Regions from separate parts of the Homo sapiens genome. Here all the other regions are linked to region 2. Evidence: fine-mapped expression QTL. A gene starts in region 2. Each other region holds a variant in brackets. All regions are shown on one strand. Distances are between the middles of the regions. Region 1 overlaps PEBP4 (phosphatidylethanolamine binding protein 4). Region 2 holds the start of FHIP2B (FHF complex subunit HOOK interacting protein 2B). Region 3 overlaps REEP4 (receptor accessory protein 4). Region 4 has its middle 7.7 kb from the start of NPM2. Region 5 holds the start of LGI3 (leucine rich repeat LGI family member 3).

Evidence for each region. PIP is the estimated chance that this variant, and not a neighbour inherited with it, causes the effect.
Region 1: its variant is fine-mapped to the expression of FHIP2B in vagina (GTEx, PIP above 0.99).
Region 3: its variant is fine-mapped to the expression of FHIP2B in whole blood (TOPMed, PIP 0.90).
Region 4: its variant is fine-mapped to the expression of FHIP2B in whole blood (INTERVAL, PIP above 0.99).
Region 5: its variant is fine-mapped to the expression of FHIP2B in whole blood (TOPMed, PIP above 0.99).

The regions. Positions count from the first base shown.
Region 1 is chr8:22,910,988-22,917,313 of GRCh38, reverse strand. The region is part of intron 3 of PEBP4 (phosphatidylethanolamine binding protein 4); the gene reads left to right. Among named protein-coding and RNA genes, the nearest start is that of PEBP4, 14 kb to the left of the region's middle. RefSeq lists enhancers at 4,147-4,918, 4,919-5,690. The variant C/G (reference allele first, on the strand shown) is at 3,452.
Region 2 is chr8:22,086,286-22,092,611 of GRCh38, reverse strand. FHIP2B (FHF complex subunit HOOK interacting protein 2B) reads right to left here and starts at 3,462. Exons shown (of 17, transcript NM_022749.7): 1 at 3,314-3,462. The coding sequence starts at 3,358. RefSeq lists enhancers at 2,583-2,722, 5,822-6,326 and silencers at 2,943-3,042, 3,233-3,292, 3,353-3,572.
Region 3 is chr8:22,135,125-22,141,450 of GRCh38, reverse strand. REEP4 (receptor accessory protein 4) reads left to right here. Exons shown (of 8, transcript NM_025232.4): 2 at 754-826; 3 at 1,203-1,279; 4 at 1,368-1,488; 5 at 1,922-2,035; 6 at 2,390-2,525; 7 at 2,658-2,812; 8 at 2,899-3,431. The coding sequence ends at 2,964. Among named protein-coding and RNA genes, the nearest start is that of REEP4, 3.6 kb to the left of the region's middle. RefSeq lists enhancers at 555-1,162, 1,163-1,771. The variant C/T (reference allele first, on the strand shown) is at 3,631.
Region 4 is chr8:22,013,268-22,019,593 of GRCh38, reverse strand. No RefSeq gene overlaps it. Among named protein-coding and RNA genes, the nearest start is that of NPM2, 7.7 kb to the left of the region's middle. The variant TTTTTG/G (reference allele first, on the strand shown) is at 3,397.
Region 5 is chr8:22,155,443-22,161,768 of GRCh38, reverse strand. LGI3 (leucine rich repeat LGI family member 3) reads left to right here and starts at 4,963. Exons shown (of 8, transcript NM_139278.4): 1 at 4,963-5,432; 2 at 6,306-6,326. The coding sequence starts at 5,227. It also overlaps a transcript of SFTPC not described here. RefSeq lists a cis regulatory region at 4,858 and an enhancer at 4,786-4,930. The variant C/T (reference allele first, on the strand shown) is at 3,598.

The DNA of each region.
Region 1 (6,326 bases), 820 kb before region 2:
AAAAGGGTGCGGGGAGCCTGAGTGTTTAGGACAGAGAAGAGCATGAAGGTATTTCTTCTGGGCCTGATGGAGAAGGGCACGAGTTGGTGACTGCTATGTGGGGATGGTGCATTGCTTCCAAGGTGACTGAAGCAATGCCACCAAAGCAGTGACTGCCATTGGACATGCCTGGGAACACCCCCCCCTCCCCCGCCCCCAGCAAACTCCAAAGCCCTGGAAAGAGGGGTGCAGCAGTGCCTCTGTGCCCACCATAGAGCTTCCCACCTCCATATTCTGGCATTGGCCACTTCCCCATCCTTGGCGTCTTTGGACCCTGCTCCCGTCACAATGCTTCCTCCTCTAGGAAGCCTTCCCTGACTGCCTCCCTCTGGGCTCCACCTACATCCCTGGCTGATCTTTTCTTTCTCTGTGCTTTTAAAATGTTCCTACCCTCTAAACTGGGTTTTGACTTCCCTGTGTCTTGTGCTGTAGTTGCTCATTCCTGTCTCTCAAAGCTTCAAGCACTTTGTAAGTTAGGAGAGAAAGACTATGTGTTGTCTTTCTTTGAGTCACCCGTGGGCCCCACCAGCACCTCAGATGCCATGCTGGCTGACTGGGTGACTAGGTGAGAGAGTGAACAGGTGAATGCATGAATGCATGAATGCATGAATGAATGAATGAATGAATGACATGTGGGAGAGCATCTCCTGGAGTGTGAGCTATGAGCTGTGTCAGCCAAACTGTCGGCCCTTTCAGCATCTGTTGAAGGAAAGCTGCTAAACCTAGTGAACCCAGGGCAGCAGGACTCTCTCCTCCCCCTAGGGGTGGGGTGTGAGCTGGGGGGTGGGTGGGGAAGCAGGCAGAGAAAGAGAGGAAGTCAGGCAGGTTCATGAGAAGGCAAAGTAACACAGGAAAACGTGGCTGGCTCCCGTGCCAGCTATGGCTGAGCGAGAGAGGTGTGGAAGTAAGAGGAAGCGTTTCTCCCCTGGCGCTCTGACAAACATGAAGAGGCAAACATTTAAAAATGCATCCCGTTCTCAAGCCAAGGAAAACTGAAAGGCCCCTGAGAAGCTTCTTGACTGGGGGCTTATTCTCCACCTTAAATTTCGCCAGCTGGAATCCTTTTGAAGTGCAGAAATTGCCTTTAAGTGGGGAATGTGCATTGCATTACAGGGAGGGAACAAAAGGCTGCCTCGGTCTGTCCTGCTCTCCCTGGAGTTTCCAATCAGGCTTGGCCCAGGCACTATTTCTTCTCCTCACAAAGCAGGTGGCCCTGAGTGCCCTATCCACCTGGGTCAGTGCATTTCATGCCAGCCCAGGCCTCTAGCCGCAGCCTCCCAGGGAGCACCTTCTCGCCCTCATTGGCCCATGGTGGAGACACAAGTTTCAACCCAAATTTTCTAGAGGCCTGGAACTCTCCTCTCTATAAGAGAGCTCGGAACTCACAGGTCCACCGCCCCTACCAACCCTTCTCTGTATACACAGAGCAGAAAAATACAGGCTGCTGCAGTCACAAAATGATTAGCCGAGGAAGGACACGGGGCTCCCAACACCCACAGCAATTCTAGAAGAACAGACCCTAATGGATGGAGCAGAGACGTCTTCCAGTAGACTACATGTGGAGTCTCCTCTCCTACATGTGGAGGCGGTCAAGTGCAGGCCCACTGGCTCAGGGGACTGCAGCCGCCATGGACTATTTGGTGTTGGGGATGGGCGGTGACTCACTTCGTAAATATTACTGAACACATTGCATCAGGCACCATGTCAGTGCTATTGATTCAGAGACGAAAGACACTATCACGGAGCTTGCAGTATAGCTGGGGAGATAGACAGGTAGCGGGCAAGCATGGGGACACAGGGTGTCAGTGAGCCGGGACCCAGCAAGGGACAGATGGGAGCCAGGATGGTGAGGTGAGGGATGAGGCTTGTGGTTGGGTCGGGGGTCGGGGCGGGTAGGGCAGGGGCACATCCATGGTTAGGAGCCAAGAACTTCATGGCCCTGGTGTGGAGTTTAGAGTTTATCTTAAAGTTTGGCTGGTGGCTGGGGGAGGAGAGTCACCATTTGATTTTTAGGCTGGTAAATGTGATCAGATTTGCAATTTGGGAAGGTCACTCCAGCAGCAGGTGGAAGAATGGAAGAAAGGTAAGATTGAAGGCAAGGTGCCCACCCTGCAACCTAGGTGATGGCATGGACCATGGGCTGGGCTTAAAAGGTGTTAAGGACGTGGAACCCATAGAGCTTGGGGGCTGTGGGGATATTGGGGAGAGGGAGAGTCCAGATGACCCTCGGGTTTCTGTGATGAGCAGGCGAGTGGGTAACAATGAGGTTGAGTATATAATTTCTCATCTAAGACAGGACCCTTTTGAGACTAAAGGGGGATGCTGTTAATAGTTATGCCAGGACAATGTGTGTCATTGGGCATGGCGCTGGCAAGCTGGGGTATATGTTAACTCTAATAACGGTGCCTTCACCAAGAAGGGGACACAGAGAAGCACTGGGTTTTTTACAGGGATGGCAGCCATTGGCACCGACTTCTGCACAGAAACCCATAGAGTTTGAGGAGGCTGTAGCATCCAGAGGTAGCTGCCCGAGAGGCAGGTCTGCCATCTGACTCCAGAAGAGAAGGCAGGGCTGGGCACCTGGGTCTGCATCCTCAGTGTTCCAGCAGGCGTGGACTCTGAGAGGAGGACAGGTTTACCTGCGGGTAGGCTCTGCTATGCTCAACAGCAGCCAGCCAGAGAGGTTGGGTGAGGCCACAGGAAACGCACGCACTGCCTTACCCCAGCAAGCCACTGGTTACCCGTGTGAGGGGACCAAGGAGTGAATGAGGAGTGGATCCCATGGAGTAGGCTACTCACACCACCGCTTTGCCAGGGGAGAAGAGATGCCTGCGAATGTTTAAGTGCTGGCAGGGGCTGGGCACAGTATGTGTTCAGTAATATTTACGAAGTGGGTCACATCTCTAATCCCAGCACTTTGGGAGCCCAAGACAGGAGGATTTGCTTGAGGTCAGGAGTTAGAGACCCCATCTCTACAAAAAAATGAAGTTAACCAGGCCTTATGGTGGTTGATGCCTGTAATCCCAGCACTTTGGGAGGCTGAGGTGGGCAGATCACTTGAAGTCAGGAGATCAGCCTGGCAAACATGGTGAAACCCCATTTCTACTAAAAATACAAAACTTAGCTGGGTGTGGTGGCACATGCCTGTAATCCCAGGTACTTGGGAGGCTGAGATAGGAGAATCACTTGAACCCAGGAGGCAGAGGTTGCAGTGAGCCTAGATCGCGCCACTATACTCCAGCCTGGGCAACAGAGCAAGACTCTGTCTCAAAAAAAAAAAAAAAAAAAAGTAGCCAGGCCTGGTAGTTCACACCTGTAGTCCTAGGTACTGGGGAGGCTAAGGTGGGAAAATCACTTGAACCCAGGAGTTCAAGGCTGCAATAGGCTAAGGAGCTATGATTGTGCCACTGCA[C/G]TTCAGCCTGGGCAACAGAGCAAGACCCCAACTCTAAATAAATAAGTAAATTCTGGCAGGAAGGAGCCAATAAAAGGGCAGTGTCAAAATACAGCAGAAGGAGGGGTTGAGGGGTCGACTGGAAATGCTCATTCCAAGGTGATAAACGGTGTGAATGGTGGGAGTTAGGAGGATATTTCAAAGGGTGTCCAGCTCCTTTGGAGCCAATGGGACCTGGCCACTGACTGGAAGTCAGGGGTGGGAGGTGCCGGAGATGCTTCTGAGGGAAGAGGAGGAGGAAGGGGATAGTGGGCAGGAGGGGTGCAGGTGTGGCCGCAGGGGCTGGAGGGGGCTGCCCTATGCTGGCCCTGGGAGCTGGAGCTCAGCCAGCCAAGCCCCTACTGCAGGGGGAAGAGGCAATGTCATGAAATTGCAGGGTGGAAGGACTTTGGGGCAGAGCGTGGGGAATGATGATGTCACGGACATTGCAGAAGAAGTAAAGGTGCACAGAGGAGGGAGGTGCAGGGAAGAGGCAGGAATGGGGAGCAGGAGTCACCAGGCTCCACTGCTGGGAGAGGCTGCATGGGGCCAGGCTGGGGAAGAGCCACTGGATCTGGATCGTTCCAGGACTGCGGGCTGGGAGCAGAAGGTAAAGTCAGGACAGGGTAAGGGGCCACCCTGGGGAGATCACCAGTGCATCAGGTGAGGGTTTAGGGAAGAATTCATGAGATGCCACTGTATTTGGTGCCGAGCACCTAACTGGAGTTTCATGGATGGGATCAGTTGTCACTACAATAGAAAGAGATGGATTTGTAGTCTGAAGGACAGAAGACACAAAAGAAGAGTTGGACTTTCCAAGGTTCCAGGAGAACTGTGTGTGTTTGAGGCCCAGAGGCAGAGGGGACAGGAGGCCGCTGAGCTTGTAAATGAAGGGCTCAGGTGCTAACAGGCGGAGCCAGGTGTGGGAAGGCAGGTGAGGAGGGCGCGCAGCACCCAGGCAAGGACGAATCAGGTCATTTTATCCTTTGTCCCTGGCTCCTTCAGTGCAAGTAGTCAAAGTGCTAACATCACTCAGCTGTGTCCCACTCTAGCCCAGGTCCCCAGCCAGGTCATCCGGGGCTCCTCTGGGTGCAACTGGACTGGGTGAAAGGGGAGTGAGGATTGTCAGCATTTCTAACCTTTGCAGTTAGATGTTCAGGTTGCAAAGACACTTCCTATGCAGGACTTCACAGGACAGATCCTCCTAGCAACATGGGGCGATGGATAGAGCGGGGATTATCCCCTTGATGACAGATGAGGGCGCTGCCCAGGGTCACACTTGCCAAACCTGGGAAGTGGGAGAACCAGCCCCGGATGGCAGCTTCCCTGGCTTGCAGTCAACTACCTTTCACCTATGTAATTTTGCCTCCGGAATCCCCCGGTTCCTGAAAACAGGCCTGTAATGTTGACAGTGGAGAGGGGGTGTCATTCAGTCATTCATGTATTCACTGGAGCAGATCCGGATGGAGCTCCACTCTCTGCCCCTCTGCCAGGTACTGTTCCGGTAGTGAGGGATACACACAGAACGCACCCCTGCCCTGCCTGTGATGGGCATCTTGCAATAGTGAGAATGTCCATTGTTGTTGTTATCACTTGTCTGTTAAACACTTAATGGCTGAGGGGAAACCTTAACAGAACGGCCACGTGCTCCGGCGACTGTCTTACTCAGGGTGGCTCCATTAGGAGGATTCCCAGTCTTAATCTTCACTCCCAGGGCTCCTTATCCTCGTGGCCTTCTCTGTCATTCCAGAACTTCCTGCCAGACCTGAACCTGCCCCCAGCAGCTTTTAATCAAACAGCGCCCCCCCTTACCCAATCCGCCACCCCCAGTCCGATAGATCTTGCCGGCAGCTCAGGCAGGCAGGGTGCACGCTCAGCGATTGGGCCGCTGACATCCACTGAAAGCTCCCAGCCAAGTGCTGGGGAAACAGGTTCCAGATGTTTCTCAGATCAAATACTGTTTCTTTGAAAAAAACTGTGTGCGCTGATCTACCAAGGGGGCACATGGGACCTGAAAGGAGCACTCAATGGATTTGCATCCTGGGTTGTTTTTTTGTTTGTTTGTTTTAAAGGCATTGAACAAGCGTCAGTGTAGGGCTCTTCACATGTTTGGGATCTGTTCACAGCGGTATGTTGGGAGTGTCAGCAAAGGCTTCTTGGATTTTAAAATAGCTGCCGGCCTTTGTGGGAGCCATTTAGAAGGAAGAGCATTTTGAATGCTACAGGGACTTGTTGCCTGCTCTCACTGGTGAAAGAAGGTTGTGGCCTAAAGGGGAGTTTTGAGAAAGGTTTGGCAGATTTTTAGAAGAGCAGTATCATGTGTTATTTGTTAAAACTTGCCGGCTTGTGGGTGAGGGGTGGAGAGAAGGAGGTGGGTGGAGCTCCCAGCTCTGCTGTGGGGAGCTGCTGCTGGGAGGAGGTGCCCACTGCAGTCCAAAACCCCCACTGCCTGGTGGGGAGGTGAGAACTGCCAGAGGAGGGGGCTGCAGCAGCTGCTGGGGGCTGGGCTGGCAGGGGCAGTTGTCATAGGATCCCGACTTTGAGGGCATCTCTCATTCTTCCAGGGACCAGCGCACCCCTGACATGTTGGTCTTGTACTCGCAGAGTCCACTAGACCCCAATCATGGCCATGTGGGTGTCATGGCAGGCAGAGCAGGTATTAGTGTCTCTGTTTTACAGGCGAGGAAACAACAGATCAGGGAAAATTATTTATTTATTTTTAATAGACTTTATGTTTTAGAGCAGTCTTAGGTTCACAGCAAAATTGAACAGATGGTGCAGAGAATTCCCATGTACCCCTGCCCCCACACAGGCACAGCCTCCCCTACCCTCAGCTCCCCCCACCAGAGCGGTGCAT
Region 2 (6,326 bases):
ACTTTTTTTTTTTCTTCTGAGACAGAGTCTCAAAAAAAAAAAAAAAGAGTCTCACCGTCACTGAGGCTAGAGTGCAGTGGCACCATCTCAGCTCACTGTAACCTCCGCTTCCTGGGTTCAAGTGATTCTCCTGCCTCCCAAGTTGCTGGGATTACAGACATGTGCCACCACGCCTGGCTGATTTTTGTATTTTTAGTAGAGACGGGGTTTCACCATGTTGGCCAGGCTGGTCTCAAACTCCTGACCTCAAGTGGTCCGCCCACCTGGGCCTCCCAAAGTGCTGGGATTACAGGCATGAGCCACCACACCCGGCCATTGGCACCTTCTGAGCAGTGTTTTCGGAAGACTCATCTGGCAGTTGGCCTTGGGAGAGGAGGTAAAGGCAGGAAGAATATGCTTAGAAGGCCACTGCAACATGGGGAGGGAGGGATGACATTCACAGAACTGGAAACTCCCCTCAGTCCGCAGGGCATCTTGTCTTCTTGCAAAGCTAGTTGGTAGGGGCTGCAACCCTTCTCAAAAGTAGCACCACCCACAGTTATTCCAAATATTCCATCCCTGTGCAGTGACCGCATCTCACTACATTCTATGTGACAGTGCCTGCTGTGCTGAGCAATCATCTCTTCTGCTAGATGATGAGCTCCCTGAGAGCCAGGGTTCTGTGTTTTACAGCTAGCCTGCCCTCAATGGGCTCAGCACATAGTGAATACCCATGAATATTTACCAGATATCTCAGGAAACTCCTGGAGAGATTCTTTCCCTAGTTCCTTGTTTTAGAAAGTCCTCTGGCCCTTCACCAGCCCTACAATTATCTCATAATTTCTGTGATGGGGTCTCCTTTAGCCTCAAAATTGGCTTATAGTCTTTGAAAACCTTGAGCTGGGCTTTAACCAAAAAGAATACTCCAGTACGGCAGGAGACACGGGAGAGGCAGGTTAACCAGCACAGGCCATTAGAGAGCTGGTGACACAGGTGTGTGATCTTTACCTAACTCCACCACCAGCTATGATAACTCCAAACCAAAGGCACTAGACCCAACAATTTCTCTTTAACGATATTATTAGTGGCCAGACATGGTGGTGGCTCACACCTGTAATCCTAGCACTTTGGGAGGCCAAGGCAGGTGGATCACTTAAGGTCAGGAGTTCGAGACCAGCCTGGCCAACATGGCGAAACCTCATCTCTACTAAAATTACAAATATTAGCTGGGCGTGGTGGCGCAGCCCTGTAGTCCCAGCTACTCAGGAGGCTGAGGCAGGAGAACCACTTGAGGTGGAGGTTGCAGTCAGCTGAGATCGCCCCACTGCACTCCAGCCTGGGTGACAGTGGAAGACTCCATCTTAAAAAAAAAAAAAAAAAAAAAAAAAAAAAGCTGTAATGATTCCTAATCTGTTAGATCAGAAGAGGGCGGGAAGGAGCAGTCTTCCTACTCAATGAGTAATCAGTTGACTTACTAGGATCACACTTGGTGACCAAGGCTTGGGAAAGACCTAGACTGGCGACCTGAGGGTAGAGCACAAAAGAGGAATTCCCGTCTCCCTGTAGGGCCAACCACACCGCCCGGACATAGCCTATATGGTCAATACTAAAGGGCCCGGAAGATCACCTGCCTAAAAAGATCTCCCTCCACTGCCAAAATCTCCTGCCACTGATGCCTGTACTTCTGTCATTGGAAGCCTTAGAATTTGACTCCTAGCCGGGTGCGGTGGCTCATGCCTGTAATCCCACCACTTTGGGAGGCTAAGGATCGCTTGAGGCCAGGAGCTCAAGACCAGCCTGGGCAACATGTTGAAACCCTGTCTCTACAAAAAATACAAAAATTAGCCTGGCGTGGTGCCGCATGCCTGTAGTCCCAGCTACTCAGGAGGCTGAGGTGGGAGGATTGCTTGAGCCCAGGAGGTGGAGGCTGCAATGAGCGGAGATCGCACCACTGTAGTCTAGCCTGGGCTCAGAAATAAATAAATAAATAATAAAAAGAAAAGAAAAAGAAAGAAATTCACTCCTCAGGACTGAGGAACTGTCTGGCCTGTCTCACCTCCTGTAAATGGAGTGTTCCCCAGAGGTATGAATTGGTTTATCAGATCACTTTTGAAGATCACAGCTGTTTTGACTGGGGATGGGGGAAGGGGAAGAAAAATCATTTTGGAACCCTCTCTACCTGGATGCCCCAAGGCCCTGGCCCTGGGTCAACAGCAGGGCTGGGAAGGTGGAGGAAGTCATAGTTTCTGACTTTCTTCCCAACTTTGCCTAAGGCAAACTTCTTTCAACAGGAGCTCCCATGAGGGTTGGGGAGGAGGTGGTGGGGAGGAAGGAGGGTGAAACCCAAGACTTTCTCTCCTGAGAAAATCTGATACTCAACTCATCAATTGGGGGAAGATTTATACTAGGAGGCAGAAGTATTGCTGACTTTACAGACAGCTTCTTGGCAGAGTTACTTTCAACAGCGGGCACCCCCCCCACCCTACCGGGAATACCCCCACCCTTCCTACACAGCGCTACATCTTGCTGAACGAACCCTAGTAGTAGGCTGCCTGCCAGCCTGCAGCCCCAACAAAAAATGGCAAAAACACAAACTGACGGCACGTGAAACATCAATGGACTCTCCTCCCCGCACAGGGCCACCCAGGCCCCACCACGGGCGGCATGTCCCTAACTCAATTTGGCTTGTGAGGGGTCACAGCCACGCTGGAAACATCTGCACCCAATAGAAGGCGATTTCCCCGGCTGGGGGCCCACCAGCCTGCCCCGGGTCTTTACCCTTCGTGGGGACTTGGACCGGCAGGGCCTGCACTTCCCACGTCCCGGGGTGACGGGAAGGGCGTCCTGCACCCCAACAAGGTCCTGGAGTTGTCTGGGAGATCAGACCGAGGGGAAGGGACGGCGATTTTTTCAAGCCCAGGCGAGGCGGTGGGGTGGAGCGGAGGAAGGAGGCAGGCCCACCGGGACTGGGGGGAGGCGGCCTAGGGCCCCGGGGGGCAGGAAACACCCCAAGCGGTGACAGGGAGCGTCCCGGCGGAGGCGAGTTCGGGAATTGGGAGAGACTCCGGGGCCAGGACGCACAGACAGGAAGCGACGCGGGAGCAGGCCGGGGAGGTGGGGCGGTCGGGAGGAGTCTGGGAGCGGGACTGGGAAGAGCGAGGGGAAGCGGGGCGCGGCCGGGGAGGCAGAGGAAGGGGCGCCGCGGCCCGGGGGTCCCTGCCCGAGGGGGCCCGCGCCCGCCCGCCCTCCTGCGGGCCGCGCCCGGCTCCGCGCCCGCCCAGCCCGGCCTAGGCCCGCGACTCCCGGCGGCCCGGCCCGGCCCTGCCGGCCTCACCGCCCCCACGGCTTCCTGCAGCAGCGCCCCGAGCCGGCTCAGCATGATGGCGCCCGGCCCCCGGCTCCCGGGCGAAAGCGGCGGCGGCAGCGCTCTAGGCGGAGGAGGCAGCCCCGTGGCCCCGGCGGCCCCGGCGCGACGAGGGGGGCGGGGCCCGGCCGCTCCGCCCCTTCCCGGCCCGGCTGCGTGGCGCTGGCTAACCCCGGCTGGGGGCGCCCAGTCGGGCTGGGAACCGCCAGCGGTGGGCCCTGAGAGTTGGCTGGGAGGTGTTTTTTTTTTTTTTTTTTTTCTTTCCTTTCTTCCGAGACAGGGTCTCGCTTGGTCGCCCAGGCTGGAGTGTAGTGGCGCGATCTCTGCTCATTGCAGCCTCCAACTCCTGGACTCATGCGATCCTCCAACCCCGGCCTCCAGAGTAGCTGGGTCCACAGGCGCGCGCCACCACGCCTGGCCAATTGTTTTTTTTTTTTGTTTTTTTACTGGGAGGGGAGGTCTCACTGTGCTGCCTAGGATGATCTCCAGCTCCTGGCCTCAAGCGACCCTCCCGCCAGGGCCTCCTGAGTAGCTGGGATTAAGGCGGGAGCTAAGGGAGGTGTTTTCGAAGAGAAATTACAATTCCTCCTGAATTGAAGTCTCAGTCAGCCCCAGGCACATGGGCTGATGAGCTCCTGAAATGTGCTGGTCCCAACCAAGATGTGCCGTGCCAAGCACACCCCGATTTGGAAGATACAGTAAGAAAGGAAAGTGTGAAACTGCAACAACCATGGCTTATATTGATTACATATTGAAATGACTATTAGGTGTGTTGGGTTAAATAACGTATATTGTTAAAATTAACTTCACGTGTTGCTTTTTACTTTTTTGACAGGGCTATCAGAAAATGTTTATGGGCTGTGGGCGGTGGCTCACACCTGTAATCCCAGCACTTTGGGAGGCCAAGGCGGTTTGATCACTTGAGGCCAGGAGTTTGAGACCAGCCTGGCCAACATGGTGAAAACCCGTCTCTACTAAAAATACAAAAAAATTAGCCAAGCGTGGTGGTATGTGGAGGCTAAGGTGGGAGAATCACTTGAACCCGAGAGGCAGAGGTTGCAGTGAGCCAAGATCGTGCCAGTGCACTCCAGCCCGGGCAACAGAGTGAGACCGTCTCAAAAAAAAAAAAAAAAAAAAAAAAGTCTGCAGCTGAGTGTGGTGGCTCAAGCCTGAAATCCTAGCACTTTAGGAGGCCAAGGCTGTTGACCAGCCTGGGCAACATATGAAGATCCTGTCTTGACAAAAAATAAAAATACAAAATAACCAGGTGTGGTGGTATGTGCCTGTAGTCCAAGCTGCTCGGGAGACTGAGGTGGGAGGAGGATCACTTGAACCCAGGAGTTCGAGGCTGCAATGAGCTATGATCGTGCCCCTGCAGTCCAGACTGGGTGACAGCAAAATAGTGTCTCTCTAAGAAACAAAAACCAGTGTCTCTGCTTATCACTGACATCATATTGTGTCCGGAATTGGTAGGTTCATTGGTCTCACTGACTTCAAGAATGAAGCTGTAGACCCTTGCAGGGAGTGTTACAGCTCTTAAGGTGGCACGTCTGGAGTTTGCTCTGATGTTCGGATGTGTTTGGACTTTCTTCCTTCTAGTGGGTTCGATGGTCTCGCTGGCTTAGGGGTGAAGCTGCAGACCCTCGCGGTGAGTGCTACAGCTCTTAAGGCGGCGCGTCTGGAGTTTTTAGTTCCGCCTGTTGGGTTCGTGGTCTCGCTGACTTCAGGAGTGAAGCTGCACACCTTTGCCGTCAGTGTTACAGCTCACAAAAGCAGTGGGAAACCCAAAGAACGAACAGCAGCAACTTATTGCAAAAAGTGAAAGAAAAAAACTTCCACAGTGTGGAAAGGAACCCAAGCGAGTTGCCACTGCTACCTTGGGCAGCCTGCTTTTATTCTCTTATCTGGCCCCACCCTCATCCTGCTGATTGGTAGAGCCCAGTGGTCTGTTTTGACAGGGCGCTGATTGGTGCGTTTACAATCCCTGAGCTAGACACAAAGGTTCTCCACGTCCCCATCAGATTAACTAGATGCAGAGTGTTGACACAAAGGTTCTCCAAGGCCCCACCAGAGCAGCTAGACACAGAGTGTCGATTGGTGCACTCACAAACCCTGAGCTAGACACACGGTGCTGATTGGTGTGTTTACAAACCTTGAGCTAGATACAGAGTGCCCATTGGTGTATTTACAATCCCTGGGCTAGACATAAAGGTTCTCCACGTCCCCACCAGACTCAGGAGCCCAGCTGGCTTCACCGAGTGGATCCCGCACCGGGGCTGCAGGTGGAGCTGCCTGCCAGTCCCGCGCCGTGCTCCCGCGCCGTGCGCCCGCACTCCTCAGCCCTTGGGTGGTCGATGGGACTGGGCGCCCTGGAGCAGGGGGCGGCGCTCGTCGGGGAGGCTCCGGCCGCACAGGAGCCCACGGAGCGGGTGGGAGGCTCCGGTATGGGCGGGCTTCAGGTCCCGAGCGCTGCCCCGCGGGAAGGCAGCTAAGGCCCGGTGAGAAATCGAGCGCAGCGCCGGTGGGCTGGCACTGCTGGGGGACCCAGTACACCCTCCGCAGCTGCTGGCCCGGGTGCTAAGCCCCTCATTGCCCGGGGCCTGCAGGGCCGGCCGGCTGCTCCGAGTGCGGGGCCCGCCAAGCCCAAGCCCACCCGGAACTCCAGCTGGCCCGCAATCGCCGCGCGCAGCCCCGGTTCCCGTTCGTGCCTTTCCCTCCACACCTCCCTACAAGCTGAGGGAGCCGGCTCCGGCCTTGGCCAGCCCAGAAAGGGGCTCCCAAAGTGCAGCGGTGGGCTGAAGGGCTCCTCAAGTGCCGCCAAAGTGGGAACCCAGGCAGAGGAGGCGCCGAGAGCGCTGTGAGGACTGCCAGCACGCTGTCACCTCTCAATATGACGAGAGGGAAAGGAATCAGTTTCCCTCGGGAAGGAAGAATAGCCCCTGTCAGAATTATAGAACCTAGAGTTTTGGGGTCTCGGGCTTCA
Region 3 (6,326 bases), 49 kb before region 2:
GTGAGTATGGCCGCCCTCAGACCTCCTCTACCCCGGGGTGCCGTCCCGCCCCTGTGGTGGAAGCTGTGGACGTCTAGTGGGAGGAGGAACTTTCTGAGCTCCACCCTCCAGCACTCCATGCAAGGGTTAACGGACCTGTGGGCTTGCACGCGGTGTCTGGGGCACCGCAGGCTACCCGCCCCACCAAGCCTCGTTGGCTGAGAACGACCCCTGCCGCACGCCACACACACTGCAAACAGATGCGTGGAGCCGAGGGCCACAGGCCTACCTTGCTGCCCCTTGGCAAACACAAGGTGATATGGCACGTTGTGGGCGGAGAATCCAGGTGCCTGCTTGCCATCTGAGCAGTCACATGACTCACCATCCTATTCCTCACCTTTGAGTATGCCAACATCTGGCTCACATAGCCCTATCTGCAACCCAGCAGTGTCAGGTCTGGTGACCCTGGGCCTGATTGCATGCCCATGGGAGGGGACAGTCTGGTGTTCTCACCCACTTCGTGGAGTGGCTGTCCTCTCACTCCATCATGCACCCATGGGCCACCGGTGCAGGCCTGGGCAGGCTTGGGATGTTTGTAAACAGCAGGGTGGGGAGGTGGCCTCCAGGGCTCTGACTCAGGCACGGGTTGTACAAGCCAAGCGAGAAAAACAGGGCGGGTACTGCCACCTTGCACCCCAGTGGGGGGAAATGGCCACTTGGCAAGGTGGGAGTGGGGCATGGTGCCCCTCACACTCCCCATGGCTGCTCTTCCAGGCTGGTGTTTGGGATGCTGTGTCCAGCTTATGCTTCCTATAAGGCTGTGAAGACCAAGAACATTCGTGAATATGTGAGCGTGGGGGTTTGGGTGTGTTTAATAGGACTTGGTGAGGTGGGGAGGGTCTCAGTTGGCCTCTCCCTCCTCCAGGGGCAAGGCTGTGTGGCACATCCTGAGTGGAGTGGGGAGGGAGAGAGAATGGGCCCTGTTCAAGAGGGTGTAGATAGAGGGCAGGCCATCGGGGTGCCTGTGGAAGATCTGGTGGGTGAAGCTTGTTGGAGGCGGGCATAGGAATGAGCAGCAGTTTCTCAGAGCTCCTGTCCAGCCATGTGTGGGGGAAAGCAGCTATGCAGCCGGACAGGCTCCCTGGAATCTCTGGGCTGGGCTGGCCTGGGTTGGGAGTTGGTGCTGCAGGCCCCATGCTGACCTCTGGGCGCTCACCCCACAGGTGCGGTGGATGATGTACTGGATTGTTTTTGCACTCTTCATGGCAGCAGAGATCGTTACAGACATTTTTATCTCCTGGTATGGACGCAGGGTCCGCAAGCCATGGGTCAGGGGTGGCCCCCCCAGCCCTGCTCCTTGGCTCACCCTGCCCCTTGTGCTGTGACAGGTTCCCTTTCTACTATGAGATCAAGATGGCCTTCGTGCTGTGGCTGCTCTCACCCTACACCAAGGGCGCCAGCCTGCTTTACCGCAAGTTTGTCCACCCGTCCCTGTCCCGCCATGAGAAGGTACCCCAGGGGGAAGCGGGAAGGGAGGCTTAGGGGTGGGTATGAGGGAAAGAGCCCTGGACCTGGGATTTAGGATGCTGGGGACACCGGGGTTCTATCCCAGTCCTGCTGCTATTGAGGGGCAGGACCTTGACAGGGCCCAGCCTACCTCATCTTCTGGGATAATCAGGTGGGGGTACACATGAATGACCTTTGAGGATGGAAATTGGTTTGGGGGTAGTGGTGGCGGCAGCTGGAGCATGGCCACTCATGGAGGTGTGAGCGGGTGGCAGCCCTGCTCTTGGTCTGTGTTTGTGGCCCGGATTTGTGGCTCTGGGCACCAGGTGGGGCTGGGCTGGGCTGGGTGGCGCCACAACCAGTGGCTTCTCAGAATCTGCAGAGGAAGAGGGACTCTGGCTGTCCACCTGAGCTCTCCTCCCCATTGGGTCCACAGGAGATCGACGCGTACATCGTGCAGGCCAAGGAGCGCAGCTACGAGACCGTGCTCAGCTTCGGGAAGCGGGGCCTCAACATTGCCGCCTCCGCTGCTGTGCAGGCTGCCACCAAGGTGCTCTGGGCCCCCAGCCCTCCAGCAGCCCCCATCCCACCCCTAAGGCCCTTTGGGCTCATTCAGCTCCTCTGCCAGGGAGCCCAGAGATGGCAGCCGGGGAGCAGGGGTGAGAAGGTGACGGGGGGGTATTGGCAGAAGCGTGGAGCTGGAGTCAGACCTTCCTTCCTGGCTCTGGCACTGAGCGTAAGCAGCGGCTCCTGCTCTCTGACTTTGGTTTCCTGTTGGTGCCACATTGGCGCGGGGCCAGAAGCTTGCTGAGCAGTTTTCACTTCTGCGTCTCAGCTCCGGTGATTAGCTGGTTGGCCAATATCCCTGGGCAGCCTCCCCGCTGAAGCCTCTTCCCCCTCGCAGAGTCAGGGGGCGCTGGCCGGCAGGCTGCGGAGCTTCTCCATGCAGGACCTGCGCTCCATCTCTGACGCACCTGCCCCTGCCTACCATGACCCCCTCTACCTGGAGGACCAGGTGTCCCACCGGAGGCCACCCATTGGTGAGCGGGCAGAGGGGCCCAGAGCCATGCCAGGAGGGATGGCTTCCTTCACTCACACCATGGCTTCCCCCAAGGCTCGAGGAAGGGCTGGCCTGGTCGCAGGCTTTCAGCTTCACCTCCTCCTCCACACAGGGTACCGGGCCGGGGGCCTGCAGGACAGCGACACCGAGGATGAGTGTTGGTCAGATACTGAGGCAGTCCCCCGGGCGCCAGCCCGGCCCCGAGAGAAGCCCCTAATCCGCAGCCAGAGCCTGCGTGTGGTCAAGAGGAAGCCACCGGTGCGGGAGGTCAGTGTGGGAGGACGACAGGAGGGAGGAGGGCTCTGCTGGCTGGTGCTCCCCACACCCTCATGCTGTGCCTCCCCTTTCCCCAGGGCACCTCGCGCTCCCTGAAGGTTCGGACGAGGAAAAAGACTGTGCCCTCAGACGTGGACAGCTAGGGTCTGCTGCATCTGCCCCCTTCTTACCTCGTGCCCTGCAGGGCTCCAGGGCTATTTGGAGGGACCTTGGGCTGCACATCTGGCCTGCCTGCACCAGCTGCCTGGGCCCCACCCTCCTGACTCCTGCTGATGGTTAAGGGCCGGGAGCAGATGCTGCCAAGGCCACATGCAGGGATGCACCCACAATGTACCAAAGCAGGCTGGGCCCAGGGTTCTATTTATTGCCTTGCTCTGCCCTCTCCCTTCCCCGGTTGTGGGACAAGAGCCCTCCCTGAACCCCTGCAACCCTCCCTGAACCCCTGCAAATGAAACCAAACGTCCACCTGGGTGTGTTCATTCCTTCCTGTCCTTCAAAGTACTTGATAGCCTTTCATAAGGCCTGGCACATGTGTCCTGGTTGTGTGTGTGTGTGTTGGTGAGTGAGGTCAGGTTTGCGAGTGTTTTGATAAATAAATACATAAAGGGGCTCTGTTTCTCCTGATTCTTACTCCCGTTGCTCGCCTCACACCCTTGAAATGGGACAGCCCAGTCCTAGCCTAGGTCTAAGGCTGAAGGAGCCCAGTCCTCTGGGGGAGACAGAACCATTGACAGAGAGTTGTGATGCAGCACATGGTTTCACGAAGGAGCTTTTGGGGAGTTTTGAGAGCACTGATGGGAAAGTGGGGA[C/T]GAGTCCAGAGGACTGGTCAGAACCCGAAACTTCAGTTAGGCCTTGGCAGGAAGGTGCAGCTATAGAGAAACCAGTGGGAGCACAGGCAGGAGGGGCTTGGGGCAGCACGTTAGTCCCATAGGGAGGTCGAAGCTAGGCAGAGGAGACCTGGGGAGGAGTATCTCCTCCAGGAGCCTGGAAGAAGGAGCCCCCTGGGGCAGCTCTGGGGACATTAAGTTCTGTAAACAGTCAGGTACCCGCAGGGGCACCATTGCACCTCTGAGGAGTGGCCACGAGAGGGCAGCAGTGTCTGGGATCTGGGCTGCCCCCGGCTTCCAGGTCAAGGAGGGTGGGGTTGGGAGACTGGCCAGAGCCTCGCCCTGCTGGGCCTGGCGGAACTCAGTGGCCCTCCCTGCTGCTTGTGGTCACTGGTCCTTGGCCTGCCCCATCCAAGGAGTCTCTGCTCTCCTGAGACCAAGGCTGTTTGCCTGGCTGGCTCCACTCCAACTCCTCCGATCCCTGGGGCAACCGGGGTACCCAGCTCTGCCCTCTACTGCCCCGGTGCTGGTCTCACCATGATGCCCGGGGTGCGCCCCTCTGCCACTGCTGCACCTGCTCCTCCTCCCTGCTTTTGATTGATTAAGCAAAGAGGTGGGTGAGAGTGTGGGATGAGAAGAGGGGAAATGGGGTGGTAACCTGGAGTGGCCCCAGAGAGTGTGGATTAACTCTTGGTGTGGGGATTATCCAGGTTTTATTTGGGGGAGGCTCTTAATCTGCTGCGGTGATTTAGCTTCTCACGTATAGGGGCTCACTGGCGTCCAACATGGCCTGCCTTTGCATCGTGGGGTTGTCTTATCGCTTCATTAATTCATTCAAAAATGAATCTTTATTGAGCCTCGAGCAGGTACCAGACATGTTGCCAGACACTGCAGGGATGCAGGCAGTAGTAACGGCTGGCGCCCAGAGTGTGGCTGCCCACGCAGACGCTGCTCTAAGCCCCTGGCATATATTAATTTAATTCTCATAACGATCTTTGGGGGGTGGGTACACACTAGTCTTACAGTCTCCATTTTCCAAACAGGAAAACAGGCACAGAGAGGGCAAGTGATTTGCCCAAGGTCACATAGCTAGTACATAGCAGAAGGGCTTGGAATCAGGCAGTCTGGCTCCAGAGTCTGTGCACTTAATCACTAAGCAGTACCAGAGTGAAGGAGATGATTCCTGCCTGGGAGGCAAGGACATGGAGACTAACATGTATGGAATATTTGTTGTGTGCCTGACCTTGTGCTGGGCATTTTACAGAGATGATTTCCTTGAATCCTCCCAACAAGCCTGTCAAATAGGGACTATATCCATTTTTTAAAACAGGTTCTCACTGAATCACCCATGCTAGAATACAGTGGAATGATCATAGTACACTGCAGCCTCGAACTCCCGGACTTAAGGGATCCTCCCACCTCAGCCTCCTGAGTAGCTTGGACTGCGGGCACTCTCCATCACACCTGGCTAATTACCATATTTTTTTGGTAAAGACGGGGTCTCACTATGTTGCCCAAGCTGTTCTTGAATTCTGGGGCTCAAGTGATCCATCTGCCTTGAACTCTGAAAGTGCTGGGATTACAGGCATGAGCCACTGCACCCACAGGGCTATACCCATTTTACAGATGAAAAACCGAGGCTTGGAGAGCCACAACAACTTGTGTACCATTGTGCTGCTTGTGAGTCGGGGACCCTGACTCCTGATGCACCTCTGCCTGGGAGTTGCGTTGATAGAGGCGGGCTGGCAGGATCCATGTACCCAAACCAAGAGAACAAAACCAGAGGGGCGCCGGGCACAGTGGCTCACCCTTGTAATCCCAGCACTTTGGGAGGCTGAGGCGGATGGATCACCTGAGGTCAGGAGTTCGAGACCAGCTGGCCAACATGGTGAAAACCTGTCTCTACTAAAAAAAACAAAAATTAGCCGGGCATGGTGGCGCGTGCCTGTAATCCAAGCTACTTGGGAGGCTGAGGCACAAGAATCGCTTGAGCCCGGGAGGCAGATGTTGCAGTGAGCCGAGATTGCACCACTGCACTCTAGCCTGGGTGACATAGCAAGACTCCATCTCCAGAAAAAAAAAAAAAATAACAAACCCAGAAGGGCATATGATGAATGGCAAAACAAAACGGAGTAAAAGAAAACAAGAGTTGGGGAGAGGCCTGAAGTCGTGGGGTGGTGAGGGAGATTTCACTGGGGTGGGGGCTTCACTTGCCCTCCCTCCTAGGATGGGTGCTTGGAGGGGGCCACACGGCCACCCAGGCCCCTTGGCAGAGCTTGCGATGCCTTGTCCTCACCATCTCATCAGACTGTCTCATGGCTCCGTGTGGCCCTATGCGTGCTGGCCTCTGACATGCTCTTCCTCCACCATCCAACTCTGTCCCATTTCTACTTGCCCTTTGAACCCCACTGAGACATCACCTCCACTGGAAGCCCTCCGCAAGCACTCCCTCACCTCGGAGTGGTTTGCTGTCTGGACCACACCACCTCTGTTCTTGCACAGACTTCTGTTGTTGCCTTGAGCATGTGACCTTTTCTCCCCCACTGTGTTGTGACTTCATAAAGGACAGACGTATTTTACACACTGTTGTAGCTCAGCCTGGAACAAATGGTCTAACCGAAGTGAAATACTTTTGTAACTTCGCGACTGGGTGGTGAAGTCCTGATCTCATTCTCTGA
Region 4 (6,326 bases), 73 kb after region 2:
ACCTGGCTAATTTTGTATTTTTAGGAGAGATGGGGTTTCTCCATGCTGGTCAGGCTGGTCTTGAACTCCTGACCTAAGGTGATCCACCTGCCTCAGCCTCCCAGAGTGCTGGGTTACAGGCGTAAGCCACCGCACCCGGCCTATTTATTTATTTATTTTTGAGGCAGAGTGTCACTCTGTTGCCCAGGTTGGAGTGCAGTGACGCGATCTCTGCTCACTGCAAGCTCCGCCTCCTGGGTTCACGCCATTCTCCTGCCTCAGGCTCCCGGGTAGCTGGGACTGCAGCCGCCTGCCATGGCGCCCAGCCATTTTTTTTTGGATTTTTAGCAGAGACGGGGTTTCACCGTGTTAGCCAGGATGGTCTCGATCTCCTGACCTCGTGATCTGCCCACCTCGGCCTCCCAAAGTGCTGGGATTACAGGTGTGAGCCACCGTGCCCGGCCTATTGTTTTATTTTGTTTTGAGACAGAGTCTTACTCTGATGCCCAGGCTGGAGTGCAGGGGCGTGATCTTGGCTCACTGTAACTTTTGCCTTCTGGGCTCAAGCGAATCTCCTTATTCAACCTCCTGAATGGCTGGGATTACAGGTGCCAGCCACCATGCCTAGCTAATATTTGTATTTTTAATAGAGATGCAGTTTCACCATGTTGGCCAGACCAGTCTTGAACTCCTGACCTCAAGTGATCTGCCCACCTTGGGCTCCCAAAGTGCTGGGATTACAAGCGTGAGCCATTGCACCCGGCCCCTTCTTTTCCAGTTTAGAAGCCTTTTATTTCTCTCTTACCTGGTTGTTCTGGCTAGTACTTACAGAACTGTGTTGAATACGACTGGTGAAGGTGGGCATCCTTGTCTTGCTCCAGTTCTTACAGGAAAGGCTTTCAGCTTTCTCCCATTCAGTATGTTAGCCTTCTGTGGGTTTGTCATATATGGCCTTTATTATGTTAAGGCATATTACGTGTATGCATAACTTGTTGAGAATTTTTATCATGAAGGGATGTAGACTTTTATCAAATGCTTTTTCTGCATTTATTGAGATGATTATATGGTTTTTGTCTCTCCTGGTATTCTTACCCTACAATTCCACCTAGGAAATTTCTCATCCATATATAAAGTTCATTGATTTTTTTTTTTAAAAAACCACCTTAATGAGGTATGATTGATGTGTAAAAGGCTGTACAGATTTAAGGTATACATCTTGTTGAGTTTGGGGATAAATATACGCCTATGAAACCCTCACCACCATCATGGCCATGAACATATCCATCAGCTCCCAAAGTTTTCTCTTGCCCTCTTTATTATTATTATTATTTATTTATTTATTTATTTTTTTGAGATGGAGTTTCGCTCTGTTGCCCAGGCTGGAGTGCAGTGGCATGATCTCAGCTCACTGCAACCTCTGCTTCCCAGGTTCAAGCCATTCTCCTGTCTCAGCCTCCCGAGTAGCTGGGACTACAGGCACCCACCACCAAGCCCAGCTAATTTTTTTATTTTTAGTAGAGACGAGGTTTCACCATGTTGGTCAGGCTGGTCTTGAACTCCTGACCTCGGGTGATCCACCTGCCTCAGCCTCCCAAAGTGCTGGGATTACAGATGTGAGCCACCATGCCTGGCCTGTGTTTTTTCATTAAGAACACTTACTGTAAGATCTATTCTTTTAGCAGATAGTAAGTATTCTACTGTAGTTACTAAGTATTGTTAGTTCTAGACACTGTGTTGCATACTGGACTCCAGATTTATTTTGCATAACTGAAACTTTGTACACTTTGACCATCACCTCCCCGTTTTCCTCTCCTCCCAGTGCCTGGCAACCATTCCTATACTCCTTGCTTTCGTTATTTTGACTATTTTAGATCCCACATGAGTGAGATCATGCACATTTGTCTTTCTGTGTCTGGTTTATTTCATTAAACATAATGCCCTCCAGGTCCAGCCAGGTTGTCCTAGAGGACTGAATTGCCTTCTTTTTCAAGGCTAAATAATATACCATTGTATGTATGTACTATTTTCTATATCCTGCGTCCATCAGTGGGTGTTTAAGCTGTTTTCATATTTTGGCTATTGTGAATAATGCTGTCATGAACACAAAAGTGCAGATATCCCTTTGAGATTCTAATTTCATTTCCTTTGGATATATAGTCAGGAGTGGGATTCCTGGAACACAGGTAATTCGATTTTTATTTTCTTGCTGACAGGTTTCACTCTGTCACTCATGCTGGAGTGCAGTGTGATCATGGCTCACTGCTGTCTTGAACTTCTAGGCTGAAGCGATCCTCCCACCTCAGCCTCCCACGTAGCTGGGACTACAGGTGTGCGCCACCATGTCTGGCTAATTTTTTTTTTTTTGGAGAGACAGGGTCTTGCTATGTTGTCCAAGCTGGTCTTGAATTCCTAGCCTCAAGCAATCCTCCCATCTTGGCATCCCAAAGCACCAGGATTACAGGCATGAGCCACTATGCCTGGCCTCTATTTTTAATTTTTTGAGGAACCTCCATACTCTTTTCCTTAGCAGCTTTTACATTCATTCCCACCAAGCATGTACAAATGTTCCTGTTTCTCCACATCCTCAACAATTGTTTTGTTTTTTTGAGGCAGGGTCTCCCTCTGCAGTCCAGGCTGGAGTGTGGTGGCATGATCACGACTCACTGCCACCTTGACCTCCTGTGCTCAAGCGATCCTTCTGCCTCAACTTTCTGAGTAGCTGGGACTATAGGTGTGTACCACTATGCCCAGTACATTTCTTGATTTTTTTTTTTGTAGAGTTGGGGTCTCACTATGTTGCCCAGGTTGCTCTTGAACTGCTGAGCTCAAGTGATCCTCTTGCCTCGGCCTCAACGTGCTGGGATTAGAGGCGTGGGCGATTTTTTTTTTTTTTTTTTTTTTAAGACGGAGTTTTTCACTGTTGCCCAGGCTGGAGTGCAGTGGTGTGATCTCAGCCCACTGCAACCTCCACCTCCCGGGTTCACACCATTCTCCTGCCTCAGCCTCCCAAGTAGGTGGGACTACAGGCACCCGCCACCACGCCTGACTACTTTTTTTTTGTATTTTTAGTAGAGACGGGGTTTCACCATGTTAGCCAGCATGGTCTCGATCTGCTGACCTCGTGATCCAGCCGCCTTGGCCTCCCAAAGTGCTGGGATTACAGGCATGAGCCACTGCGTCAGGCCCATTTTTTGTTTTTTGTTTTTTTAAATAATAGCTGTCCTAACAGGTGGTAGATGATATCTACTGTGATTTGATTTGCATTTCTCTGATGGTTAGTGATGTTGAAGCATCCTCTCATACACCTGTTGGCTGTTTGTCTTTTTGGAAAAATGTCTAGGTCTTTTCCATCTTTCTTTCTTTTTCTTTCTCCTCCCTCCCTCCCTTCTTTCCTTTTTTTTTTTTTTTTTTTTTTTT[TTTTTG/G]ATGGAGTCTCACTCTGTCCCCCAGGCTGGAGTGCTGTGGTGTGATCTTGGCTCACTGCAACTTTTGCCTTCCAGGTTCCAGTGATTCTCGTGCCTCAGTCTCCTGAGTAGCTGGGATTACAGGCATGCACCACCACACCCAGCTAAGTTTTTGTATTTTTAGTAGAGCCATGTTGGCCAGGCTGGTCTGAAATTCTTGGCCTCAAGCAATCTGCCTGCCTCGGCCTTCCAAAGTGCTGGGACTGCAGGCATGGGCCACCGCTCTGGCCTGGGTGGTCTTTTCTAAAATGGTGCCAGAGGAACTGGCTCTATCTCTTTGGCATGAGCTGGGCTTCTGCTGTGCAGGAATTAGCTTTTTCTTTTTAAATTAACTTTATTGAAAAATAATTTATATACAAAAAACTGCACTTGAACGGGCACAGTGGCGCACGCCTGTATTCCCAGTAATTTGGGAGGCCAAGACAGGATGATGGCTTGAGGTCAGGAGGTCAAGACCAGCCTGGGTGATAGAGTGAGACTCCGTTAAAAAAAAAAAAAAAATTAGGAAAAAAAGATTAGCCAGGTGGTATGACACGCTCCTGTAGTCCTAGCTACTTGGGAGCTGAGGTGGGAGGAGCACTTGAGCTTGGGAGTTTGAGGCTGCAGTGAGCTGTGGTCACACCACTGCACTCCAGCGACAGAGTGAGACTCTGTCTAAAAAAACCCAAAAAACTGCATTCATTTTAACTGTATAGTTTGATGAGTTGTGACAAATGTATACACCCATGTAGCATCACCCCAGTCAAGATATAATTTCCATTGTCCCTTCCTACTTTCCTTGTTTCCCTTTGCAGTCAATGCCCCCTGCCCCACCCCCTGCTATGCCTAACTGGCATTAGGCAAATGCTAATCTGCTTTCTGACATTACAGATTAGTATTGCCTGTTCTAGAACTTCATATAAGTAGAATCCTACAGGGTCTTTTTGTTGGCCTTTTTTTGCTAAGCAAAATGTGTTTGAGATTTATTTATTTATACTGGTGCTTGTATCAGCAGTTTGTTTCTTGTTTTGGTTGAGGAGTATCCCACAATTGGTCTATCCAGTCATCTGCCCGTTAGTGTTATGTGTCAACATGACTAGGCTATTGACCCAGTTATTCAAGCAAATATTAGTCTATGTGTTGCTATCAAGGTAATCTGTAGATGTGATTAACATCTACAATTCATTGACTTTGAGTTAAAGGAATTACCCTTGATGATGTGAGTATGCCTCACCCAATAAGTTGAAAGACTTCAGGAACAGAAGTGAGGTTTTCCTGAAGTCCTGCCTGGGGACTGCAGCTTCAGCTCCTTGCTCCTCTCCCCCTTCCAAGCTGCTCTTCCTGATGGCCTGCCCTATAGATTTCATACTCTCCTGGTTGGTGCTCATAATCACATGAGCCAATTCCTTGCAGTAAGTCCCTGTCAGATAGACCTGTTGGTGAACATTTGGGAACTTTCCAGTTTTAAACAATTGTGAATAAAACGGCTATGAATATTTGAGAGCAAGCCTTTGGATGTATGTTTTAACTTTTCTTGGGTAAACATCTAGGAGTGGAATTGCTGGATATGTGGTAAGCATATGTTAAGCTTTATATGAAACTGCAAAACTACTTTGACATGCTGTACCCTTTTATTTATTATTTTTATATTTGAGACAGGTTCTCACTCTGTTGTCCAGGCTGGAGTGCAGTGGCATGATCATGGTTCACTGTAGCCTTGACCTCCCCAGGCTCAGGTGATCCTCTCACCTCAGCCTCCCGTGTAGCTGCAACTACAGGCATGTGCCACCATGTCTGGCTATGCTGTACCATTTTACATTTCTACATATAATGTATAAGAATTCTTGCGATTCTCCTGCCTCAACCTCCCGAGTAGCTGGGACTACAGGCGTGTGCCACCACGCCCAGCTAATTTTTGTACTTTTTTTTTTTCAAGACGGAGTCTCACTCTGTCGCCCAGGCTGGAATGCAGTGGCGCAATCTCACCTCACTGCAACTTCCACCTCCCGGGTTCAAGCACTTCTCTGCCTCAGCCTCCTGAGTAGCTGGGATTACAGGCACCCACCACTATGCCCAGCTAATTTTTGCATTTTTAGCACAGACCGGGTTTCACCATCTTGTCCAGGCTGGTCTTGAACTCCTGACCTCGTGATGCACCCGCCTCAGCCTCCCAAAGTGCCGGGATTACAGGTGTGAGCCACTGTGCCCGACCTAATTTTTGTATTTTTAGTACAGACAGGGTTTCACCATGTTGGCCAGGATGGTCTCGATCTCTTGACCTTGTGATCCACCCGCCTCAGCTTCCCAAAGTGCTGGGATTACAGGAGTGAGCCACCGCACCCAGCCAATGTATAAGAATTCTAATTATTCTACATCTTTGCCTACACTTGGCATTCAGTGTTCTTAATTCTAGCCATTCTAGTGGATGTATAGTGGCATTTCATTGTAGTTTTTATTTGCATTTTCTTGATGACAAGTGATTTTGAGTTTCTTTTCAACGTGATTACTGGTCATTTGTAAATCTTATTTTACAAAATGCACGTTCAACTATTTTGTCCATTTTAAAGTTGGGTTATTCTTAGTGAGTTTTGTGTGTGTGTATGTGTTTCTTTTTTCTTTTTTTTTTTTTTTTTTGGACAAGGCCTTGCTCTGTTGCCCAGGCTGCAGTGCTGTGGTAACATCATGGCTCACTGCAGGCTCTGCCTCCCTGGCTCAAGTGATCCTCCCACTTCAGCCTCCCAAGTAGCTGGAATTACAGGAATGCACCACCATGCCTGGCTAATTAACTTTTTTGTTGTTGTTGTGGAAATGAGGTCTCACTATATTGCTCAGGCTGATCTTGAGCTCCTGAGCTCAAGGGATCCTCCTATCCTGGCCTCCCAGAGTGCTAGGATTACAGGTGTGAGC
Region 5 (6,326 bases), 69 kb before region 2:
GTGTCCGTAGGGAGAGGGGACAGAGGTGAAGGACCAAGCCCCCTGTGTGCCAGCCAAGCCCTTGGCTTTGAAGCCTGTTTGTTCCTGGCCCTCCAGAACCGAAGCCCAGATAAGCCCCCTGTGAGAGCCCCCAAGGGCCCTTGGCCCTGGCACATGAGTCCTCTTGGCCCCAGCAAGAGCAAACCTGGGTGAGTTGAGCAAACTTGCCCTCGGGCCATCTGCACTTCTCACCATGGGTGTCTTCCTGGCGTGCCTGCCTTCCTTGCTGGCACCTGCCCCTGCTGCCCTGTGGCTTTCCTTTTTCTTCTACCACCCTGAACCTTTCAGGTGGCCAAGGGTCTGACCATCATATTTCCCAGCAGAATTTCTAGATACATAGGGATGCGCTCCAGGAAGAGGGTTCTGGAGGCAGCACCTGTAGACTCTGAGAGGACTCTGCCCAAGGCAGGAGGTGCTTTGACATCAGTTTTCGGGGTTTCATAAATGTGCATTTCCCTGCAAGGACCAGTTCCAACTTCAAGTACTCTTTCCCTTACCTTGCCTCCTCCCACATATCTGGTACCAACCTCAAACTTGCCCCCAGTGATTATTTTCCTAATTCTGGAAACTCTGTCCCCACTGGTGGCAAGCTCTTACTCATGTGCAGTGCTTCCTTCTTTGCTCTGGGCTTGTCTGTCAATTGCAGGCTGTGCTGATGGCAGATTCCAGGTCTGACACTGCTTTCTTCTGCCCGGACAGCCCTGAACAGGGCTGGCTCTGGTCACTGGTGGGCTCCCAGTCTCCCCATCCTCGAATCAGCTCACTCACCCTGTGGTCTACACTCTACCCCTCTAGACTCCCCTTTCTGCATCCTCTGATCCTAAATTTGCCCTGAGAATAATACTCACCCAAATACGATCAGCTTTGAGGACTGTCTCCTTCTCTTTTCTCTGTCTTTCCTAGTGCCTTCCCAAAGCCATCTCTATGTATTTACGAGGTCAAATCTGCCAATGACTTTGGGCTGGCTCACCCTTTCTCTCAGGTTCCCTTTCACTCCTTGGGCCAGGTGGTCTCTAAAGTCCCTTCACCTCTAAACTCAGGTGACTGTGGCAGAGTCCAGGCCTGGGCTCGCTCCCTTAACCTCCTATCCTTTTGTTTTGTTTTGTTTTGTTTTGTTGTGAGACAGGGTCTCACTTTATCACCCAGGCTGGCATGCAGTAGCGAGATCACTGCTCACTGCAGCGTTGACCTCCTGGACTCCGGTGATCCTCACACCTCAGCATCCCAAGTAGCTGGGACTACCAGTGCATGCCATTGTGCCCAGCTAATTTTTGCTTGTTTTATAGAGATGAGTTTTCACCATGTTGCCCAGGCTGGTCTCGAACTCCTGGGCTCAAGTGATCTCGGCCTCCTAAAGTGCTAGGATTACAGGTGTGAGCCACCATGCCCAACCAGCCTCCTGTCCTTTAACATGCCACCCCAGTTCCTGTCCCCTGCCCCAGCCCCCTCCCACCTGGGCCCTGCCCTTCGGTCATGAGCTGGCAGGTTCCCCTGTCCCCCTCTCCATCTGGAGGGCCTTCAGCCCCAAGGTTGCATAACAGCATGGCATCTGAACTGAGAGCCCCTGAGAAGCGCAGGGAGGAAGAAAGGGAGGGAAGTGTTTGCTCCCACCACCCTCCTCACCCCCTTGCTGCCCCTTTAAATATTTGCCTAAGACTCCAGCAGCCAGAGAGTGTCCTAGGACAGTGAAAGGAGGGGAGGGGTGCCGGGAGGAGGGGGAGCCCACAGAAGCATCCTCTCAGCTCGGCCTCAGCTGTGTGCAGGTGCCAGATGTGGGAGACAGCTCGCCTGCAGTGCCCACCCCTGCCCTCCCCCAGGGCCCTTACTCCCGCCCCCATCATCCTGGCAACATTGGGATTGATCGGCTGACTCACGAGTACTGGGCCTGAGCCAGGTGGGCAGCTGGCCAGCGGGAGAGCCAAGCACTGCAGGCATCTCGGGGTCCCTGTGGGCATCTCGGGGGGCCATGTTGTTCTCACGTGGGACTTGTTCTTAGCAGGCACTGTGGGTGGGGTTTGCCGCCATCGCTGGGTGCTGGGAGAGGGATCTCTTTCTTTGAAAAAGCCTCTGCTCTTTCTGGTCCTTGGTCTCCCCTGCCTGTTGCCCTTAGGCTGTAGCTGTCACAAGCTCTGTGGCGGCTGCTGCTGCTGCTTCTTCTCCTTCTTTTTTTAAACCCATTTTTGCTTGCTTGAGGGCTGAGGGAGGGTGCCTGCCTCCTGGAGTGCTCACACCAACCAAGTGAAGGTCTTGGGTTCCTTGGAGAAGGAGACACAGAAGGACCTTTAGCTGGGTGTGCCAAATTTCCCCCTCCCCCTACCAGCCCTGTCTGCAGCCTTCTCACTTTTTGGCCTGTACTTAAGCCGTTTCTCCCTCTGTGAAAGCCCACCTCCAATCCCTCTCCACTTCTCCGGTTTTATTTTTATTTTATTTATTTAATTATTTAGAGACAGGGTCTCACTCTGTTACCCAAGCTGCAGTGCAGTGGTGCAATCACAGCTTCATAGCTCACTGCAGCGTTGATCTCCTGGCCTCGTGTGATCCTCCTACCTTGGCCTTCCAAAGTGCTGAGATTACAGGCGTGAACAGTGCATCTGACCTTCCACCTCTCTGAATGCCACCCACCCAAACAGGCCAAGAGCCAATGGCACCTGCTCTGCGACCTCACTCCAGTTCATGGTGCCCTCTGAAATCCTCAGCCTCTCTGTGGCACCTTCACCTGCCATTCAGCACACATGAATGTTCCCATGAGTTACATGGGCGCTTTTTGTTGCTCTATCTTCCAGCCCAATTGCGGGCCCTGGGAAAGAAAGGAGCACGCTTCCTGCGGGCTTCTTTGAACCTGCCACTGGGCAGGAAGCATGCAAACAGCCAACACTTAATGATAGTCAATGATGAGACCAATACCAACAGCGGTCAATAGTCCATGCCTTCAGTATGTGGAGGTCTCAGTGCTTCCACTGGCCAGCTCTGGGACCCAGCGTGAGTCGTTCTGCTTTGTTAGGCATTAGTATGTTCATCTGTGAGATGGGTCAGGTACTAGCTGTCCACCTCACTATGCTATTATGAGGACCTAATAGCATCATGGGTGTGACATCCAGTCATCCTCATTAGCATCATCTACTTCATCCTCTAGGGGACCTCTCACTAGCTAAGAACACAGCCCAGACTCACCCTCTTTGTCTGTTTCTGGGTTGACTCCCTCTGAGAGCCCTGAGTGATGGACAGCCCCACGGTGGCCACCCCTTCTGTGTGGGCCTCCCCGTTTCCTCCTCCAGCCCCTCAGCTGCAGGGGTGGGGACAAGATTCACTTTGCTCTTTGTGTACTGGGCAGAGCCGTGCCAGGGACGGGTGGGGACAGTTGCCCAGCTGCCCCAGCCACCTCCCTACCCTCACTGCTTCCCTCCCCCCAAGCTGGCATGGGGAGGGCGGCTAAATGTGTGGCAGCAAGGAGACATCAAAGGGCAGGGGCATCCCTGGCTGGGAGAACACAACTTAAGCTCAGACCAGAGAATCCCCTGCTGGCAGAGTCTGGGGACAGCTGGGGAAGCATCTTAAAGC[C/T]AGTGGTCTTCGTTCCCTGGACTGGTGTGCAAAAAGCACAAGACTAGAAGCCCAGGCAGCTGACAGCCAGGCTCCCCTTGCCCCGTGCCTATGAGCTCTTAGGACAGTCATCCTCCGCCACAGGGGAGCTAACGTGGTAGAGAGCAGCAGTCTTCAAGCTTTTTGTTTTCAGGACCCCTTAACACTCTCAAAAAGTATTGAGGACCCCCAAGAGCTTTTGTTTATGTGGGATATGTCTGTTGATATTTACTGAGAAATTACATTTTTATTTACATGTGAATTTAAAATATCAGTAATAAACCCAATATAGGTTATGACATAAATCACATTTTTAATGGAAAAACGATTTTACAAAGCAAAATTATTTTACAAAGCAAAATAAAATTAGAGAGAAAGTGTCATTTCTTTACAGTTTTGGAAATCTTTTAAATTTGGAGCTTCATAGAAGTGAAAAGGGCAAATCATGTCTTAACAATATTAGGAAAATTGTTTTTACCTCAGAGACTTCCTGAAAGGTTCTCAAGGACCCCCGGGCTCCCAGGGCTACACTTGGAAGAGCCGTGCATGGAAGGACGACCGTGAACCTTGAAGCTGGGCAGAGTGGGCGGAAATCCCTGCTGATACCTTTTTCTTCTGGTGCGACAGGCCTCACTTTTCTTGTCTGTAAAAGGGAATTACTATCACCTGCCTCAAACGATTGAGAGGATTAAGTAGGGAAAGTACAGAGCACTTGCGATAGCAAGCTTAGGGGGCCTCAGTTTCCTCATTTGTTAGACAAAGGGCTGGACTGAAAAATATCCAAAGCGCTTCCCAGCTTTAACAGGCTGTGGTTGAGCGTGAGAAATGTTCCAGAATTCCACACAGTCCCACTCCAGCTCCAGAGGCTGCGTTTCCCTTTTCAGCTCATGCTGACACAAAGGTACATTCTGTTCAGCGGCGCGTGGAAAAACATGTGAATCCGGTTAGAAGCGCACTTCAGACTCCTCCAGGACGCCCTTGTGCTTCTAATCTTGCATGCTAACTTAGATATGCGTCTGTCACTCACGACATGCCCATGATGCTGCCTAGGGGATGTGTCCCCCCATGCAAAGAAACCCAGGTAGACAGAAGCACAGGGATCCCTAACGCCGAAGCGCCTCCACAAGGCAGTGAGTGCATGTGCCCGTGCAGAGACAGGTGAGCACCGGCGCGCACAGTCGTGCCCAGCAGAGGCACAAGCACAAGCTCACACGCATGCACTCACGCGCAGCCCCACACGCGGATGGCCCCAGAGACCGCCCGGTAGAGCACACAGCGGCCACGCCTCCCCTTCCGTGACTCCCAGGCCCCGCGCCGCCCCGCGCGCGCCCCCGCCGCCCGCGCCGCAGTCCGCAGCCACCCGGCGCGGTCAGCCCCGGCTGCGGCTCCAGCTCCGCGCTCCGCTCTTCTCTCCCGAGCCGGATCGCGGGAGCGAGCAGGGGAGGGGACCGCAGCCGGCGCCCGAGGGCAGGAGGAGTCCGCAGGCGGGCCCCTGGCTGCGGTAGCAGCTGCCGGTGGCAGGGAGGTGCCAGCCCGCGCGGGGTGGCCCAGCCGCGGGAGCGGTGGGGCGGGGGCCGCGGCCGCCGGCCCCAGGGAGAGATCGCGGGCAGCATGGCGGGGCTGCGGGCCAGGGGGGGCCCGGGGCCGGGGCTGCTGGCGCTCTCCGCGCTCGGCTTCTGCCTCATGCTGCAAGTCAGCGCTAAGAGGCCCCCCAAGACGCCCCCCTGCCCGCCCAGCTGCTCTTGCACCAGGGACACCGCCTTCTGCGTGGACTCAAAGGCGGTGCCCAGGAACCTGCCCTCGGAGGTCATCTCCCTGTGAGTGTCCAGCCCTGGCCTTGGGGGTTGGGGAGGGAGAGGAGGCCGAGGACAGCTCTGGGAGAGGACAGGAGAACCCCCGCTCCCCCTCTTCAGAGTGCGGGGACCAGGGGGACTGCAGGGGTCCTCAGGGCTGGAGATTCCAGGCACCAGTCGGGCAGGGAGTTCTGCAGTTTTGCAGGCTCAGCGGCCATGGGTGGGGAAAGCAGGAGTTCACCACCAAGAATGAATCATCATCACCACGAGCGACAGTGAGACCTACTGTGTGCTGTGCTCCAGACTTGGGGGGGTTGCTTACACGAGCATGTGGGCCCCTGCCTGTGATGTCACACCAAGGGCAGGAGAGTGGCGGCCAGAGCAGGATGAGAATGAGCTATGCCCTCCCAGCACCCTGGCATGGGGCACATGCCCGCCACTGACCAGCCACTTGGCACTCAGCTCGGCCAGCCTGTCACTCACAACAGCCAGCCTCAGGGGCTCCCCCTTGTCTGTGGGACCAGAGAGGTTGTGAGGTCCTTGGGGACCAGGATGCCAGCCCCCACCCCCATGCCCCATCTCTCAACAGCACCCAGCCCATTGTGGGTGTTTGGATGATGATGACAACGGTGTGGGTGATGGAACCTTTTCTTGCCTGAGAGGGAAGCTGAGCCTGGGGCCATGGGTGCCCCAAGAGGCAATAGGGGAGGACCCTGGTGAAGGCAGGCAGTGAATTTGGGAGGAGAAGGGAAAGACACACAGATGGGGGCTAAATTAGGTGAAATGGGGCATTTCCAGGGCAAGTGAGTACAAAAGCTACTGCCCTCCGTGTTCACCTCTCCCTGCCTCAGCACAGCCCTTGCAGACCCCACAGTACTGACTCGGGTGTCCCCGCAGGACCCTGGTGAATGCCGCCTT